Homo sapiens: one gene and its partner. The protein of the gene in region 1 purifies or fractionates together with the protein of each later gene. This does not show direct contact. Each region holds a gene or a part of one and is shown on either strand. Other genes may lie near its edges.

Region 1 (3,914 bases):
TACATCAAGGACAATCCCTGCCTTCTTTGCTCCAGACACCAAGTCCTGAAGGGCCCTGAGGTCACCATGTTTGGCTATCCAGTGCAACGCAGTGTACCCAGTCAAAAAGTCTTTGTGCAAGGCCAGTTGAGGGTCCTCCCAGAACAAAGTCCACACCTGAATCCAGGAGCCACTGGCAAGCTTCACAATCCACTCATGCTCCCTGGCATCTAGTGGAACCAGGGATGATTTGTGCTCAGAAGTTCTGTGGGGGGCCAAGGCTGCAGACCCCTCCCCACTGGGGACCCACAGGCTGTGTCGCCAACCCCGCTCGGCCACAACAGCCTTAACCTCTGCAAGTTTTAGTGATAAACCTGCATCAACCCTTGGGCTGGGTGCCGTTCCTGCCTTGGAGGGCTTCCTGGATCGAGGTGGGCGCCGACTTCTTTTCAGCAAGCCCTCATCGAGGTACTCCTCATCAGAGGAGGACAATTTGGCTCTCCCTGCCAGAGAGCTCCTCCTGAGGGACCTCCTTAACTTAGGAACTGGCCAAGGCAAAGGCTTCAGGGGGTGGCCTGCAAGGCCATTAGCCCCTGCAGGGACCTGCTGAGAGATGTGACCATCCCCTCTGTTTCTGAGACCCTGAGGGCTCCGGCTGGGGCTGCCCTCCTTCCGAGATACAGAAAGGCCCCCAGCTGGATTCCTGAGCTTCCCCCTATCTGGGGTTCCCAAGACAACCTGCAGCCCCTCTTCAGAAGCCCCCGGGGAGTCTTTGGGCCCACTGCTGCTCTCCTCACTGCCATCACTCTCCTGGTCCACAAAGTCATCCAGATCTTGGAGGGACAGCTGACAACGAATGCTGCGAAAGACAGTCAATGAAGGGTTCCCCGCCCAGGATTCCCAGGACTCATCCGGAACAACAGGAAAGAGAGAGTGCGAGGAAAGACAGGGGTCTGGCGGCTCTGAATTAGGCTCCGTGGAGCCGGGTTCCAAGGGCAGCTGGAGGAAGTTGTCTGGCAGCACCGACCAGGCGCGGATAGGGCCCTGATCACGGGCCTCGGGCACCTGCGGGTGCCTGGCCACCCACTCTCGAGTGCGCTGCTGCTGCTGCTGCAGGGTCGAATAATGCAGGGAGCTGGGGGTCAGCAGCTCCGGCCGGTCTCCGCGGGGAGCGGGGCCGGGCAGGAGAGCAGGCGGGGAAGCCCTGCTTGTCGCAGCCTCGACGGTGGCGGGAGGCGAGTGAGCCACTGCAGGCACAGGCGCCGGCTCAGCTAGCGCGCCTTCTTCCCGCTCCCTGGAAGCCCCGCGGTCATCCTGGGCAGGCAGAGCCCGTGCCGGCTTCTCCTCCGCGGTGGCCGAGTGCGGGAGTGCGCCGAGCTCTCCCGGCAGTACAGCCAGGTTGTTCTGGAGGCATTCCCAGCAGCAGCGGCCCTGCGTCTTCGCCGCCGCGCAGCTCGCTCTCGCCTGGGCCCCTGCCGCTGCAGCTGCGGGCACCGGCGGCCTCTGTCCGGGACTGCCCTTCGATCCGCCGCCCTTCCCGGGCGCCCTACGGGAGTCGCTGCCCGGGAGTCCATTGCAAGCTGCGTCGGCGGCTCTGGCTGCTGCACCTGCTGGCTCCTCCTCCGGCTCCTTCTCGCGCCGCCGCCGCCTGGGCTGCTGCTGGGGCGGCTCCCCCCGGCGCGCGCCTCGCGGGGAGCAGGGCGCAGCTCCCCCTGCACTGGGGGCGGCCGCGGGCGGCTCGCGGGGTCGCTGCAGCCCCTCCTCCCCCAAAAGGTCCCTGTATCTCCTCTTGAGCACCACGTACTTGGTGCCGTCGGGGTCCTGGCGCACTGCGGCGACCGAGTTGACGAAGCCCTTGAAGAGCTCGCGGCGGTGCTGGTGCTGGCTGGGGGACGCGTCGGGGTCTCGGAGAAAGCTCTTGAAGTGGCTCAGCAAGGCAGCGTTGGTCACGCGGCCCCCAGCCTGGCACAGAAAGTCCAGTAGTGCCTCCTGGCTCAGCTCTCGGGCCATCGCTGCCTTGTCCTCCGCCCCAGAGGTGTCTGAGTCTCGCCCTCCCGGGGCTCTCCCCAGCCAGAGGAAACCCTGGCCGGGCGAGTGTCACCTGCGCCCGGGGCGGCACTAGCCGCCCCCATCAGCCGCGGAGGCCAGCGCTGCCCGCAGCCCGTGAGCGCGCCAGGAGGGCCGTGGGTCCCCTCCGGGTGGCCCCAAGGCTGAGTCCCCGCGGCAGTCTGCGTGAGAGAGGGCGGCTCCGAGGCCGCCCCTGCGCGACTCTAGCCTCTCGCAACGAGTCCTCACAGCGAAAGTTCCCGGGATAGGGCCGAGTCGGTTTCACCTGCGCCCTGGCGGCACCTCCTCCCTGCCTCTGGGGGAAGGGTCAGGCCCGCCTCCTCGTGTCCCTCCGCCCCCTGAGGTCTCCCCCACCCCCTGCCACCCATCCCAGAAGAGTCAGGCCGGAGAGCCAGCCGGTAGGTGAGGTTGGCGGCGAACCGAGCCGGCAGCGAACTGCTCTGCGGCCGGGGAAGTGGAAGGCAGGTAGGCGACCGGCCGTTCCTCTAAGTCTCCGCCACGCAGGAAACAAAAGCGATAGAAGGTCCGTTCCTGTCCTCCGGTGCTTTGATGAGTTCAGGCTGAAGCCGATGGGGGAGGAGGAGAAGCTGCAAGTTAACAGGCAATCTGAGTTATCTTTCTTTATTAACGCTGTAGAGGAGTACTTCAGATTTCTCGAGGCTGTATTGAGGTCCGCAAAACTCACTTTGCATCCAAACTAAATTTTTCTTAATATAGAAATACTTTCTGGGCCGCTTCTCCGGCGCCCCCTCCAAGGGGTCCGAATACATCCAAGTCTATACTGAAAAGAGAAATCACTCTGAAAATTACTACTGGGCAATATTGGTTTGGGACTTTTTCTTTCATACTTGTCTTTCCTTCATACTTGTCTCACATTAAGGTGCTGGAAAAAAAAAATCACTTTGATAGCTTCTTGCCCCCGGCGGCTAAAATGAACTAGGAATTATGTCTCGCCAGTTAAGGTATTTGATGTGTAGCATTAGTTTGCTTTTATTTACTCTAAAATTTGTGAACAGCAGAGATTTGTACAGTGTTTTGTATTGGCTTGGTGAAGTGCTTCCTTTCAGAATGTAAGGTTCAAAATGCAGACTAGAGCTGTCTTTAACAGCACCTTTTCCCCCTAACAGCTGGGATCCCTCTTCCTTTTTCTCTCTCCACATGTTGACCCTTCTGTCTTTGATGTGAGATCCTGGATGTCCCTCACTGTTCCTTATCAGTCCTGTTGACATGCCTGAGATAGTTTTCACTGTCATTATCTCTTTACCTGTTTTAGTTCCAAGCCTTCTCTCATTCTTTTCTTTAACTTGGCCTTCCCATTTCTTTCTGTTACACGACATCCTTGTTTACCTTCGGCCTCTACTGACAGGAAATATGTCTGTTTCTCAGATCCTCTCATGTCCACTGTATTTCCCATTCAAAAACCTCGATTTTCTCCTTCCCTGTAATTTGCCTCTCTTTTCTCATGGACTCTTCTCATCTTTTCACTTTTCCTTTTGCTCTTCTATTTCTGATTACTCATAGTTCCTATACTTCTCGCCAAGAAAGAGTATTGAAAGTATGTGTGTTGGCCCTACAATTGTTGACAAAGACATGTTTTAGCATGGACCAATCTTAGTGACTGCCCTATAGACCACATTAACTGAGCTTGATTTTAAATCCCCAAAAATACCCTAGCACTTTTCCAGGAATGAATCTTTGGTTTTACATTATCTAGGTCAGAAAAAAAGAACTGGAAACATTTTTGTCTATTTTTGGCATTTTCTAGGATCCAAACCCAATACTGGGTTGAGAGAGGGATAGTGGTTTTCACTGATGTCTCTACATAACATCAAGCCTTTAGGATAGTTTTTAAAATTAAGGTTTTGTAT
Region 2 (3,814 bases), on another chromosome or scaffold:
TTCTTTCTGAAGCTGTATATGGTAATATGTTCCATATCCCTCCTAGTTTCTGGTAGCTTGTTGGCAATCCTTGGCACTCCTTATCTTGTAGATGCATCATCCTGATCTCTGCCTATGTGATCACATGGTGTTCTCCCTCTGTATGTATCCATATCCAAATTTCCTCTTTTTATAAGGACACTGGTCATATTGGATTAAGGACCCTTTCTACCCCAGCAGGACTTCATTGTAGCTTGACTAATTATATTTGCAATGAGTATATTTCCAGATGAGGTTACATTTTGAGGTACTGGGGGTTGGGACTTCAACACTGGAATTTAAGAGGACACCATTCAACCCATAACAACCCGTAAACTTGTCCCCCAGTTAGATGCTTTCGTCTTTCAGCCTCCTTTCTTTGTTCTTGGTCCTACCAGTTTGGAATCAAGACCATGTTGGAGACAGAAGAAGGAATCCTACTGCTGGTCAGAGCCATGGATCCTGCTGTTCCCAACATGATGATTGATGCAGCTAAGCTGCTTTCTGCTCTTTGTATTCTACCGCAGCCAGAGGACATGTATGTGACTGGAATAATTTTTCTTCTCCATTTTCAATTTTATCATTTTCTCTTAGTTCAGAGGACAATTGAGTTGGTTGGGTGTCCTCTCGGTCATAAATACTAGGTAAGATTGTGTTTCTTCCCAGAAGTGAACACTAAGCATCTTAAAATTTAAGAACAATTCCTAAGTGATGGGTGCTATCCTGAATGTTCCACTGGTCATCAGAGGTATAGCAAAATGTCTCCTATATCTCCATTAATATCTGTATTGTCTAGGATGAGGGTTTCTTTTTACTATTCTTTTTTTTTTTAATTCAGAAGTGGCACAATGTTATTTTTAAAACTCAAACGATATAGAAGTATATAAAGTAAAATTTAACTGCCTCATCCCTTTGCCAAATCCTATTCTGCAAAGAGAATGACTGTTAATGGCATGGTATAGTCTCATAGAACGTTTCCTAAGCATAGACAAACATATTGCGTTCCCTTGATTCTAGACATCTGCCACCGCAAAAGATAGTATCTTAAGAGCTGAGGAATGACACTTATGCCTATAAAACTAACTGCATATATAGGATAGATTTTTATTATTGAAGAGGGATTTGGTTTAACCAAAGCTAAATCATTCTTTTCAACCTGTTTCTTTTTAATAGTAGATCTTGGACATTTCTTCTATGTCGGTACTTACAGATCTACCTTATTATCTTTAGTAGCTATTTAGTATTCCATATACATGTATGTATGGCCTATAATTTATTTAACAATTCCCCTGTTGCTGGACTTACAGATTTTTTTTTTTTCCTTTTTTTTTTTTGAGACGGAGGCTCGCTCTGTTCCCCAGGCTGGAGTGCAGTGGCGCGATCTCGGCCCACTGCAAACTCCTCCTCCCAGGTTCAAGCGATTCTCCTTCCTCAGCCTCCCGAGTAGCTGGGACTACAGGAGTCCGCCACCACGCCTGGCTAATTTTTGTATTTTTAGTAGAGATGGGGTTTCTCCCTATTGGCCAGGCTGGTCTCGAACTCCTGACCTTGTGATCCGCCCGCCTCGGCCTCCCAAAGTGCTAGGATTACAAGCGTGAGCCACTGCGCCCAGCCAACTTACAGATATTTTTTAAAGCAGATTTCACTATCTGTTCTAGGTGATCATTTTTACAAATGATACTGCAGTGAACATCCTTGTGCATATCTTCTTTCACATTTATGCCCATATGTTGGATACATTTCTAGAAGTAGACTATATGTTACATGCATGAGAAATTGATTAGTACTGTTAAATGCCCCTCCAAAAGTTGTATCAATTTATACTTCATTGAATAGGGGACTTGATTTGGTATTTATGGACAGGAGCCTAGGGATGGATTGTAGGGAATGCATTTCCCTGAAGAGATGGTCCTTAGCTTTCAGCAGTTTCTGGAAACTGAGTGGTGAGAATAATAATGTGAGAAATCCGGAACACTGATAATGTCCTGTTTCCTAATCGGTCTGTGCCCCTGTGTAATTTACTCATTATACGTGTCCGTGTCACAGTACCTGGAAAGTTCTCTCCGTTTCCTTTCTCTTGGGCAGGAATGAAAGGGTTTTGGAGGCAATGACAGAAAGAGCTGAGATGGATGAAGTGGAACGTTTCCAGCCGCTGCTGGATGGATTAAAAAGTGGAACCACTATTGCACTGAAGGCATGTATATCCCCTGAAACTGGGCCCAAGAATAGAATTCAAGATGGACAGACTTAAATTCATTTGACCTTTTAATAAAATACATGGAGTGCCTCCCAACTATATATTTTACATTTCAGAATCTGTTATGAAGGGAAAATGATTAACCTTCTTTCTAAGAAGGTAAAGAATGAACTGTTTTCCTCATTATGAGATGGAAAAAGGCATGATATCTATTTACAATCTAGGAAAACCAAGACCTACAATAACATATACTCTCAAATCCTTGAAACCATTTAGAGTTTAGGCTCTCCGGATCTGTACTCAAACCAGGTCTCATTGCTATAGTAGAAAAGTCATCTTTAGAGTTTTTGTATTGTATCTTTCAGGTTGTATTGGGGACCTAAGAATGCATGTAAAGAAAATGGATTCTTGATCTCCAGGAGTTAGCATTGACATAGCTGCTGAATTTTCTTATTTTAGGTTGGATGCCTACAGCTGATCAATGCTCTCATCACACCAGCGGAGGAACTTGACTTCCGAGTTCACATCAGAAGTGAACTGATGCGTTTGGGGCTACATCAGGTGTTGCAGGTAAGATATTACACTTCATTAGAAAGGCTAGACTGGTTCCTTCTTGCTCTACAGCCCCAATAATCCCGGGGATAATTCTGGTTTTCAATTAAAAACCAGGTTGAAAAGCTTAGGTTTCTAACCACAGAGGATACTTTTGGGTTCCCTGACTTCTACTTTTGTTGTTGACAGGACCTTCGAGAGATTGAAAATGAAGATATGAGAGTGCAACTAAATGTGTTTGATGAACAAGGGGAAGAGGATTCCTATGACCTGAAGGGACGGCTGGATGACATTCGCATGGAGATGGAATATCCTTTTGCTGACTAGGTTCAAGGCAGATGAGACATTCATTGTATTTAGTTCCCTGATCCCTGTGTGGAATGGTTTGGGAGATGATGACTCAGAACAGAGCATCAGGCTTATGTGTCTTCTCATTAAATAAGGCAGGTGTATTTTTATTGCGCTGGCTTTACTTAGCTTATCATAGATCAGGGAAGTCAGTAAAGGTGATCTGAGGGTTGTTGAGCATGGAAGCCATCAAAATCAGTGTAAACTTCCTAGAATGTGATAGCTTAGCTTACTAAGATGTAGAACTGGCTTTTAGAGATGTTTGGACTGACAGAGGGAGTAATTTAGTTACCTGTTAATATTTTCAGTAAGTGACTTTGAGGCAGTTACCTCTTATTTTCTGTCTACTGCCTGATCTTCAAGCCAAGTACTTACTAGGAATCCTCTGTGTGTATAGTACCACCCAATTCACTGGTCCCTTAAAGGACGTTTTAGAAAGCTTAAAGTTTCTGGTGATGTTTACAGGAAGAACAGCCAGTAGAATGGAAGTGGTGTCTTGCTACTTTTCCCTAGCTTTTTCAAGAGTTAAATAAGCCACCTGTCAAACATAATTTCTGCATATTTGCTTTCCTTAGCCTATTTCCCTTTTCCACTGACTTTAATGAAGTCTTTCAGATTCTCTTAAACACAGTGAAGGATTCAAAGGCAGAGCCACACTTCCTTTCCATCCTGCAGCACTTACTCTTGGTCCGAAATGAC

The links.
Region 2: the proteins of SOWAHB (region 1) and DIAPH1 purify together in Homo sapiens (affinity purification with mass spectrometry; one large-scale study listed by BioGRID and IntAct). This does not show direct contact.

What each region holds. Positions count from the first base shown.
Region 1 is NC_000004.12:76,895,861-76,899,774, forward strand, and holds the start of SOWAHB (ankyrin repeat domain-containing protein SOWAHB), read right to left. Parts: upstream 2,285-3,914; 5' UTR 1,990-2,284; coding exon 1-1,989.
Region 2 is NC_000005.10:141,577,486-141,581,299, reverse strand, and holds part of DIAPH1 (protein diaphanous homolog 1), read left to right. Parts: intron 1-416; coding exon 417-556; intron 557-2,103; coding exon 2,104-2,212; intron 2,213-2,674; coding exon 2,675-2,785; intron 2,786-2,956; coding exon 2,957-3,075; intron 3,076-3,708; coding exon 3,709-3,814. UniProt on the Homo sapiens protein: Actin nucleation and elongation factor required for the assembly of F-actin structures, such as actin cables and stress fibers. Binds to the barbed end of the actin filament and slows down actin polymerization and depolymerization.